3 linked regions of the Homo sapiens genome follow. The protein of the gene in region 1 interacts with the protein of each later gene in a biochemical or structural test. Each region holds a gene or a part of one and is shown in the gene's direction. Other genes may lie near its edges. The genes, in order: THBS1, COL5A1 and CALCR.

The links.
Region 2: the proteins of THBS1 (region 1) and COL5A1 form a complex in vitro, tested with the Homo sapiens proteins (one study listed by BioGRID).
Region 3: the proteins of THBS1 (region 1) and CALCR form a complex in vitro, tested with the Homo sapiens proteins (one study listed by BioGRID).

The regions. Positions count from the first base shown.
Region 1 is NC_000015.10:39,584,001-39,587,654, forward strand, and holds part of THBS1 (thrombospondin-1 precursor), read left to right. Parts: coding exon 1-187; intron 188-299; coding exon 300-422; intron 423-1,469; coding exon 1,470-1,563; intron 1,564-2,125; exon of another isoform or gene 2,126-3,253; intron 3,254-3,346; coding exon 3,347-3,520; intron 3,521-3,654. UniProt on the Homo sapiens protein: Adhesive glycoprotein that mediates cell-to-cell and cell-to-matrix interactions.
Region 2 is NC_000009.12:134,812,803-134,816,456, forward strand, and holds part of COL5A1 (collagen alpha-1(V) chain isoform 1 preproprotein), read left to right. Parts: intron 1-1,180; coding exon 1,181-1,234; intron 1,235-1,994; coding exon 1,995-2,102; intron 2,103-2,773; coding exon 2,774-2,827; intron 2,828-3,132; coding exon 3,133-3,186; intron 3,187-3,654. UniProt on the Homo sapiens protein: Type V collagen is a member of group I collagen (fibrillar forming collagen). It is a minor connective tissue component of nearly ubiquitous distribution. Type V collagen binds to DNA, heparan sulfate, thrombospondin, heparin, and insulin.
Region 3 is NC_000007.14:93,431,675-93,435,328, reverse strand, and holds part of CALCR (calcitonin receptor isoform 2 precursor), read left to right. Parts: intron 1-1,034; coding exon 1,035-1,076; intron 1,077-3,654. UniProt on the Homo sapiens protein: G protein-coupled receptor activated by ligand peptides amylin (IAPP), calcitonin (CT/CALCA) and calcitonin gene-related peptide type 1 (CGRP1/CALCA).

The DNA.
Region 1 (3,654 bases):
CCTCACCCTTGACAACAACGTGGTGAATGGTTCCAGCCCTGCCATCCGCACTAACTACATTGGCCACAAGACAAAGGACTTGCAAGCCATCTGCGGCATCTCCTGTGATGAGCTGTCCAGCATGGTCCTGGAACTCAGGGGCCTGCGCACCATTGTGACCACGCTGCAGGACAGCATCCGCAAAGTGGTCAGTGGCCTCTGCACCCAGCCCGTTAGCATGAACCCTGGAAGGTTTATCGCAGATGGTCCCAAATGACTGAAAATGCGGGGGGACACTAATGATATTCTCTCCCATTTAGACTGAAGAGAACAAAGAGTTGGCCAATGAGCTGAGGCGGCCTCCCCTATGCTATCACAACGGAGTTCAGTACAGAAATAACGAGGAATGGACTGTTGATAGCTGCACTGAGTGTCACTGTCAGGTAAGGGACCTTCACCAGCCAGAATAAGAATCGACGGCTTTTGTTTGAACCTACATCTTTGGGGAAATACCCTAATCGCCACAGAGATTCTTTTTATGTTCCATGGCCTGATAACAAAGTGTTTTTTTTTTCTTTAAGATGCAATTATGGCATCTATAAGTTCTTCTTTAAACTCTCAGATGGTTTATCAAAGTATTAATTATACCCCAGGCTAAGTATCTAAGAGAATGAATCTACTAAGACATCTGAATAATTTACCTACCTTAGTTCAAAGACTAAGTGTTGAATGTCAGGTAAATAAAACCTGGTTGGAACATTCATTTTTTTTTCCCAACCCTGATTTATATTCAGCTTTGGCATAGGTTCTTTTAGTACAGTAGCAATTGTTTTTCAAATCACTTAGTCTGACACTGTTAGGATGTTACTGTCTGCTTTGCTCAGATGGCACTGCCAGGTGTGTGATTCACTCTAGCATCCCCGCATGCCAGTGGCCAGTGAGTTTGGAGGTTCACCTGGCTTATCTATTAATAGCAAAGTATTTGAATTTGCTTAAATACAAATCACAGATGACTGGCTGTGGGAACCAACTTCATTAAATTCCCTTTCTTTTCCAATATAAAGACAGATCACAGATCTATAGATGAGGAAAAAGTGCTTATAGATCTTCCTTCCTCCCCCCAAACACATAATATAAAAATGTAAAAGTCCTGGCTGAATTTTCTGAGTTTGATTTCAGACATAGATTTGACCCATGATGTTTGTTGGTTCCTCTGCTATAAATTCTTTGTACTGTAACTTCCACCCTTGACTAAGTAGCAATTAAAAAGAACTTTCCAAGGAATGGAGTGACACGTAAACTAGCACTAGAACTGTCTCTACGATAGTGGTGGCTGCAAATATGACAGAGACAGATCTATGAAAATCATTCCACTAGAGCATTGACAGCCCTGACCATGTTTTGGCTTGTAAAGGAAATGTTACAGGATGTAGACTTCTGTATGCAACATGCTCAGCAGCCTGTTCCCCTCTCACTCTCTTGCCCTGCAGAACTCAGTTACCATCTGCAAAAAGGTGTCCTGCCCCATCATGCCCTGCTCCAATGCCACAGTTCCTGATGGAGAATGCTGTCCTCGCTGTTGGCGTAAGTTTCTCAAATGGCATAGCTATTCTTCAGTGACTAGGTCAGTTCTACATACATCCTAGACAGCCGAGCACAACACTGGAACCCCACCCCCATCTCCATCATGCTTCCATTCAGTTTCTTGCTGCAGCAGCTGGTTAACTGACAGCTTATCTGCTGTACAGAGCCAAAACTCCATTATGAGTACATCGTAATTACCCATCTGGATTGCAGTAATGGCAGTGAAGATCTTGGTATAGCTCATTAATTCTGATTTTTTGCTTTGAGGAAAAGAGATGAAGACGTGGCAGCAACAGCTCTAAGTTGACTGCTTTTAGAATTTGACCTTAGTGGCACAGAGTTAAGAAAAATCTGCTCACCAGAGATATTGACAGGCTTACTGTGTAAGCATTGGCCTGATCGGGCCTGGAAGTTTTGCCCCTTTCATCTGTAGGGATAAGAGGGCCTAAGAGAATAGCAGCAATCTGAGCTCTAGAGCACCAAAAGAAATAAGGCACGATATCGTTCCATGGCACGTTATCCCTGGCTTTTGTTACCAGTAAAATGAATGACTTTGCTGAGACAATACTTAGTGTAGCAGGTACAAGTTATAAAAGTGATTCATTACAACTAAGATAAGGAAGAAAACAGGAAAACAGCACTTGCCCTTCACACACACAGAAACACACATGCACACACACACAAACACACCCTTGTCACAGCTCAGAATAACCAATTCCATCCAGGGATCATATTAGCGATATTGGCACTGTAATGGTCGTTTTTACATTTATTTTCTGTTCCGCATTCACTTAACATGTGCGTTAAAAGGAACAAAGCTAGCTGGAGGTAGCAAAGTTTTGAACTTGAATCAGGGATTGCTAAGAAAACTTACAACTAATGACCACAGAAAGTAAGTTCTTTGTCTTCTGTCTGATACAGCTAGATGTGATTGTAGCCGTGGTGCCTGGGCAGATGGTAAACAAACATGCTGTCCTCTTATGACAATATGTGCAGAGAAGGCCCCAAACGCTGGGGTGAGAGGAACAACAAACTGACTAACTCACGGCCGAGTTGGAGCCAGAACCAACAACAGCTCGGCTGCCTTCACACTCATCTGTCAAACACATGGTGTATGGCTCCCCTGACAGAAATGACTCCTATAAGCTTCCTCATACTCGCGCATTCTTGGAAGTCTGAGACTGGAAATGCCTACCCAGATATGTTAAGTCAGTAAAGGAAAACTCATTTGCAATGCTGAGAGGAGAAAGAAAATCAATGAATAGGAGAGCATACACTGTGGGAAGGCTCAGCTGTACTGAGCCAGGCAAAGCATCCGATTACCCCACTGCTGTACACATCATGACCTGGGATAAACCCCTGGGCCGTTGGCCTAAGAAATATGTTGCTTTTCATCCTGTATAACTGCAACTTTGTGCCGGCTCATATTATGTTCTAGAGAGCTCATGTACACCATGGTGACCATAGTTAATAATACTGGATTGTATGCTTAAAATTTGCTAAGAGAGTAGATCTTAAGTCATCACCAAAAAAAGTAACTGTAAGATGATGGAGATGTGTTAATTAGCTTGACGGTGGTAATCACAATATATGTGTATATCAAAACATCACATTATACACCTTAAATGTATATAATATTTGTCAATTATACCTCAGTAAAGCCAAAAAGAAATAAATATATTGCTTTTCACCCTCTGGCAAGTGGAGGGCCCTGAACAGAGCCCTCTAAAGAACAGCTTGTCCTAATCATCACGTACCTGATGAACCTCTGTTTCCCCTGCAGCCAGCGACTCTGCGGACGATGGCTGGTCTCCATGGTCCGAGTGGACCTCCTGTTCTACGAGCTGTGGCAATGGAATTCAGCAGCGCGGCCGCTCCTGCGATAGCCTCAACAACCGATGTGAGGGCTCCTCGGTCCAGACACGGACCTGCCACATTCAGGAGTGTGACAAGAGATGTAAGCATCTTAGCCTCTCAGGGACGTGGAGAACTGACCTGTCCTTGTTGTCGTCACCAAGGGCAGCTCCACAGCATGTATATTAAGAACACGGGTTCTAGGATCTCTGGATCCCAATCCCACTGCTTAGCTGT
Region 2 (3,654 bases), on another chromosome or scaffold:
TGTGCGCATGCACACGCTTGTGGGGGTGCATACACGTGTGTGTACCTCTCTGTGTGTACACAGAGATGAGAAGTACTCATTTCTGTGGGCATGGCTGGTTTATTCCTATGAAGGGCATTTTGAAATGTAGGCAGATGCTTGTGAAATGGAACTGGGAACTCTGACTGTCCATTTGTGACAGCCTTTTGCAGAATTTCCAGACGATGCCCCACCAGCAAAGCCCCTGCCTCCTCCAAGACTCAGCTCTGGTGGAGATCATCTATTCCTTAAATAACTGGTGTTTCTAAGCTTGCAGTTTCCATTTCAGCCGAATTATTTTCTCAAATGGGTCCTCTCCATTTGATCTGATTGGTTTTGGAGCCCAGACTCCATGAGCGTCATGGACCCAGTCGTGTGTGTGTGTGTGCCTGTGTGTGTGAGCTCCTGTGTGCACATCGGTGCATGTGTGTGTGCCTGCATGCTGGGTGGGACAGCATTTGCCTGACTGCAAAAGCACCTCTCCCAGTTCCCCTGGACAAGAGGGAAGACAGAGTGTACATCCATGCACTTGAGCCCCCTGTGCACCGTTTCCAGAGCTTTCTTTCTGACATCAATCAGGCCATTAAATTGGAAGACGCCTTCCACCGCTGCTCATTTTTTATGATACAGAAATTAAAGAGGAATATGCCCTGCTGAGACCACAGGGTGATGGTGTGCGGCTTCTGCTCAGAGAGGCGGTGTTTTCCTTGGTGTCCCCGCTGTAGGGCGCATGTTTCTGTTCACCTGCTGCCACTGTGCATGCCCTCTTCCCTGCGTCCCTCTGGCCTGTGTCCCTGAGGACTGCGTGCCTGTCCTCCTGCCTCGGCCCTGGCCATCCCCCACCTGGAGTGCCATCCTAGCCACTTACCAGCTTCTCATAGTTGCCCTCCACAACCCTTGGAGCAGCGCTCCGGGAAAGCCTTCACAGACAGTGTTGCTTGCAGTCTGGACACTCTGCCCTGTATCCATCACGTGCCTGCCACATTCCTCACGCACCTCCAATTCTGGGAGTGTGTGGGGACAGCACTCCCCAGAAACCCCTGGGTCCTGGGTGCCCAGGGGCAGGCAGACAGCAGGCAGGATTTGGCAAATGCTTGAAACCGTAGCACTGCGTTCATCGCGGTGCTCACCGCTGCCATAACCACATGCACTGTCTCCCTAGGGCGAGCCTGGCGAAGCAGGTGAGCCTGGCCTTCCGGGAGAAGGCGGCCCCCCGGTGAGTGAGCGGGCGCTGCGGGAGGGGTGGGATATGGCCGAGCGGGTGTGTGGACGGGGTGCTGGGTTGGAGGCTCTGGCTCTGCCTTAGCTTTTCCATCCACGAAATGGGAGTTGTAACCCCTCTTGTGCCCATTTCATGGAATGACCGTGAACAAGGTGTGTGATGTGGGAGTCAGCATGTACACGCAGACCTAGCAATAGCTACCTGTGCCCAGTGGCCTGCAGTAACTCTACCCTCTGTAGTGTTTGCTCCTGGCCCCTTCGCGGGGCAGCTGCTGTCACCTCGTCCCCCCGGACCTTGAGGGCCAGACTAGGAATATCCAGGCCTTCTCAGGCCAGATGAATGTTCACTATGAGGCCAGCCCAAAGGTGGCTTTCAGGCCCAGGACCAGCTGGGTGGACTCGGGTCTTCTGGTTCTAGCTGCTCCCTCCCCATGAGATCCGTGGAGTCTGTGGGCACCCCTTGTGGTCTTCACTGACTGATGTCTGGTCCAGGAGTCAGTCCCTCCCACCCAGAGCTGAATCTCAGGCTTTGAGGGCCCCAGAAAGTGAAGGCTCCTCAGGTCCCCCTCAGGGTGCACACAGGAGCTGATTCTGCCCAGGGCTTGGGGAGCGACCTGGCAGCCAGCCCCCTGCAGGGCTCAGCAGATACTTGGAAAGGCTGGTCTGAATGGGGTGAGAAAACCGGGGAGGCCCACCTTGCTCTGGGCGGCGACGTGGTTGGCTCTGAGGACTTGACACTGGCCTCTTTCCTCCAGGGACCCAAAGGAGAAAGGGGAGAGAAGGGCGAGTCAGGCCCTTCAGGTGCTGCCGGACCCCCTGGACCCAAAGGCCCTCCCGGAGATGATGGTCCCAAAGGCAGCCCTGTGAGTATTCCAGACACACCTCAGGGGCCCTGCAGCAGGGGCGGGGCTCTGCACTGGGATCATTCTGACTCACTGGCGGTGCACTCTGCTCTGAGAACAGCTTCAAGACCATTCCATGTGTTGGGTAAATTTTCTAGACACTAGAGGTTTTCATACCAGCTACTGAACCAAAATAGTGGAGATGAGACAGGGCGTGGACTGGAGGAGAAAGCCCTGAGTGATTCTTCTCTGTGGGCCAGGCGGCCGGCTGAGATGCACGAGTGACAGCCAGGCTTTGGGAAGTTGCCCCCGCCCTTGGCCGGCCCTGATTTTGCATCAGGAGGGGCTTCGGAGAGGCACATTCCGGAAGTCTGAAGGTCCAGGTTCTAGTTGCAGCCTGGAGCTCCCAGGAATAGACCTGTGGGCGGAACGCCTGCCCCTTGCTTGGCTCTGGAAAGCAAGAGACCAGCTGACCCCTGCCATGCCCACTGGCCAGGCTTGCTGGCTCTGGGACATGCTGCACGTGGAAGGGTCTCTGGGCCATAAAGTGCACTGGGTTGTCGGAACTGCTGGAAAGTCTTAGGAGCTGGACGGTGGCAGGTGGCCATCTTGAGGTGGTGACATGATTGGCCGTGTGTGGTCTCAGTCAGGTTGCTGATGGCCTTGGCTGCTTCCTTCTTTCTTCCTTTCAGGGCCCAGTGGGTTTTCCTGGAGATCCTGGCCCCCCCGGAGAGCCTGGCCCCGCGGTAGGTGCTCAAGAGGGCAAAGCCACCGGATCCCCCACAGTGCTGGCCTGCCTCTGCCAGCCCCATTTCCCCTCTTTCTGGTGGTTCTTTGTGATGAACTCCCACTGGGGCAGGCAATGTCCCAAAAGGCACTCGTGTTCCGGTGATCAGAGCAAGAAAACGCCTTTGACCCCACTGACCATGCTCTGTGCTGGCACCAGAATGGATTTGGGTTTTGGGAAGGGGCTGGAGATGCATTGGGAACTGGTGCATGAACTCAGGGTGCCATCCGGGGTTCAGCAAGGAGCTCGCTTTTGCCTCCATAGGGTCAAGATGGTCCCCCTGGTGACAAAGGAGATGATGGTGAACCCGGGCAGACGGTGAGTCCACAATCTGGGCTGGCTTCCTGGTGGAGGTGTCAGTGTATTCTTGGGACCTTGCAGCTTGCTTGACTCATTTCTGGGAAAAACTCCAACCTAGTTGATATTGATTCCTTTATGATATCGATTCCCTTATGATATTGATTCCCTTATGATGTTGATTCCCTTATGATATTGATTCTGGACAGTGACAGAGCTCATGAACTCCCTCTGAGATGCACGTGCTGTCTCAGCAGCAGGTTTGCAGGCAGCCCCAGGGCTTCCACGACCCACCATGGGCTCGCCCGGGAACGTCAGATCTTACCCACAGCTCTGCCTAGCAGGGCCAGTGCCTCTCCTCACCAGGCCCTTCCTGCCTTACCTTGACCGAGATCACACTGGACGTTGCATCTGACGCTTGGCGTTGAGTGTTTTAAACACCGCTTCAAGCCCAGAACGTCTTTCTGGGACGGATCGACCCCCATGGGC
Region 3 (3,654 bases), on another chromosome or scaffold:
TAAATAAGTGCTGGCTCTGGGGTAATGAGGAATTTGCACAAGGCTGTCCATGCCTCCTGCTCTATCACTCTCCATTTGTCAGGTGAATGTTAGGAATCCATTCATGACGGTTCAGTGCTATAAAGGGAAGTTGTATCCAGGCCTCCCCTCATGTAAGAGAGAATGCAGTGGGCTCTCAGGGGCTGTCCTGGGCTGTCCAGTGTCTGCCGCACTGGATAGGAGAATGGCTGCCCTAGTTCCATTCACCTTTACCCAGATCTAAAGCCCCATTGAAAGCATAATGCTGTATTTGGATAGCAAGATAGGATGTGGGAGTCCTTGGCAGGAGTAATTCTATCACAGGCTCTTAGGCCAGAGTTTTGCTGTCTCTATTACAAATTTCAAAATAGTTTTATTTTCTATATTAGGCTTAATGTGAGGAGGAGGTCAAAATTAATAGGGCCAGAAAGAAAGTTTAGGGATCGTTTGAATAGTTCGAACTGTTCTTTTAGCCATAATCAAAACTTGGGCACAAGAAATCTTCAAGCAGTGACCAGGACTCAGGCAGTTTCTTAGTCCATGTCCTTATCTGAGCGATGAACTTGGCGGTGGGTACAGTATTGCACTAGTTCACCATGACAACATAGGACACAGACCCACAGCCTCCCACTATGACACTTGTCTTGTAAAAGATCCCTCTACTGAATTCTGCAAGGTCTCCATTTTTAAATTTTCTAAGTGTAGTTTTTTTTTTTCAAATTCACCATAATCAGCATATGCTGCTATAAATCTCCATGTTAAAGGGAGCAAAATATTATTTAGATTAGCAAAATATTAATCCGTCCTTCTAGCCAAACGATGGAATCCTAACAAGAAAAATATATTTCTAAGGGAATATTCTTATAGTGCAGCACTGACTATGAATGGTAGATAATTCTTTTTCTTGCTTTTTTTTTTTTTCATCAGGCCTTCTCTGGGCAGTCTATTATATTGTTTACTAAACAACATAATGCACACAAAAATAACTTCAACTGTATTTTTCCTTCCCTTTTTAGGGCTTCTTTGTTGCGACCATCTACTGCTTCTGCAACAATGAGGTAAGCATGCATTTCATATAATACTATCACTTGTTTGTGTAAAGGCAGCATTTTTTCCAAAGGGCCTCTGTACAAATTTCATTTCATCTCACTTCTACAGTTGACCTCATAGGGTTTTGTGATTAGCAACATGATGTTTTTTCCACTACTCCAAGCTGAATCTTATCCATGGATGTGTAGTACAATGGCAAATATGATTCAGACAGGCAGTTAATTTCCTTGGGTTGCATCTTGAACAGATCAGCACCCTCAGGAGCAATAGTGAAAGCTATTCTGGATGCCATCACAAAGAGAAGTCATATTCCTATTCCCTTCGGAAGACCCGAGCCCTCACTAGGGCAGAGACAATCTCCATTCGGTTTGTACTAGTTCCTCACCTTCTTTTCCAGTTGCTTGGTGCTAACGCCCTACTACTTACTCAGCGTTTTGAAAATCACCCTGAAGTGAAGATTCAAAAAGGATTCTCAAATAATCTACAATGTGAATATTTAGATCAGTAAAATCTAGAGAGCCATATGGCTGATCCATTCTGTTCTCAGGGTGTTTTTAGCCAGAGTTACCCTTTCTTCCAACCAAATCTTGCCTGGGAGCCAAATCTATAAAACATAAAAATGGAGCTTCTATAGCTCCAGACATCCTTCCAAAGAACTTCCAGGGTTTTAGGGAACATGATTCAAAATCTTCCTCATTTTTCAGGGAAGAAATCTGAACTCCAGAAAGATCATGTGATTTACCCAATGTCACAAATGCACTTATGGTTATAACCCAGACTGGAACACAGATTTCCTGTTTTTCAATTAAACTGACCAACTCCCAATTAACTTATCTATATCTATAATTCCTTCCTGGAGCTATGTTAGTATGTTTTTTCTAGGACCACACAACTTTTAATGCCAAAGCATTTTTGAACATTTTAAATCAATTCCTATTAAGAATAATTCCATACAAGGCAAATCACATTTTGCCAAGACATCAATATATTACTTTCCTATTAGTAATTAGAAACATTTCTAGCCATTGTCAGTTGCTAATTTATTCTCTATCTTTTTACTAAGTTAAATAATATTTAGTGAGCACCTACAATATTTTGCTATTCTGTGACCTGTTCATACCCGTTTCCAACCGCAACATGACAAAGTTTTTGTTGTTCCTATTCTCCATTTTAGTTATTACATTTTATTCCTTTCTTTCTTCATCCATTCACCTACCAACTCATTCCTTCATTCAACAAAAATACATTGTGCATTTACTATTGCTAAGGGCTAGACTAAGGGCCTAGAATAGAAATGAAAAGACATCCTTCCATTGCCCGCTGTTAGAGTGGCAATATTTTTAGAATTTTAATATTTTTTAGAATGATAAAAACTAATAAATGAGTAGGGCGTAAGTCACCCCGTGTTTATATCAATTTCTGTGAATGTATATCCATGCCTTTTGGGTTGTTTCAGGTGGCATGCAAAATAAATTTTTTGTCTAAAATAATATCAAAATAGAGCTAATATGAGAAATCAGGCTCAGTGGGGCATACCTGGAAAAACACAAGAGGATTGCATGCATTCGTAAAAATACCACAATATTTATTGTGTCTTATCTATGATACTGTCATTGGAAGTGTCAGACATAGAAAGCAAACCCAGGGGTACCCTAGCAATTGAATGTCTCGAGTTCATTTGACTATATGTTATCTCTGATTTTGAAGTAAAGAAACCATTTCCATTTTCATTAAGATCCCGTTACTGGGGGAAGGTAAAAGTGTGACATTTCTAATAATATAGAATTGTGTACTGTGCCAGATGTAATATCACAGACCCATGGATTTTAGGCATCTGGGTCTCAGCTGGTCATTCTGCGAATGCATCACCTTACAATATTGAACACAGGCAGGGCACTCACACATGCAGGAAGTTATTTCCAGCTGCATCTAAGATAGGGCTGTGATGGGATGGTGCCTGGCTGAATACTGAGTTTTAGCAGAAATCTAGGGGGCTAACTCAACATAATAATGAGATCACATCACATTGTGTTATGTGCAATTTAATTTTGATTATGATTGGTATGTTATCAGTGAAATTATTATTTCATTTTTGAATTTTGATTCATTATTGGTATGTTATCAGTGAAATGATCATTATGAAAATGAATTATATAGAGAGTCAGTGGGTAGACTAGAAGCAGGAAAGGAACTTGAAGAATTAAAGTAATAGAAATCAGGAGAGGACCATGAGAGCATGCTTATGTATCAAGCATTTCCTACAATGACTCTTCCAAGTGAGTGGACATTGATTATCCAAACATATCAGTAAATTATTAGGTACCTAAGAGACCTGAAAAAGATGATTGCAGCTATAAAAATGCACAATTTGTTTCCAAGAAGTAGCATAGAAATGAAAGTTCTAACAACACACTAGATTTTCTCCCTTTTCTTGTGTCTTTCTATTCTCCGTACATCGTGGATAAAATAGTTTATAGAAGGAAGTAGCATGATCAGAAACATCTCCATTTAACTGTCACAAATTGGAGTGTGCAAAAGCTAAAATTTTGTTTATTTCCTGTAGCTTATCTTGCTTTCAAGAGACTA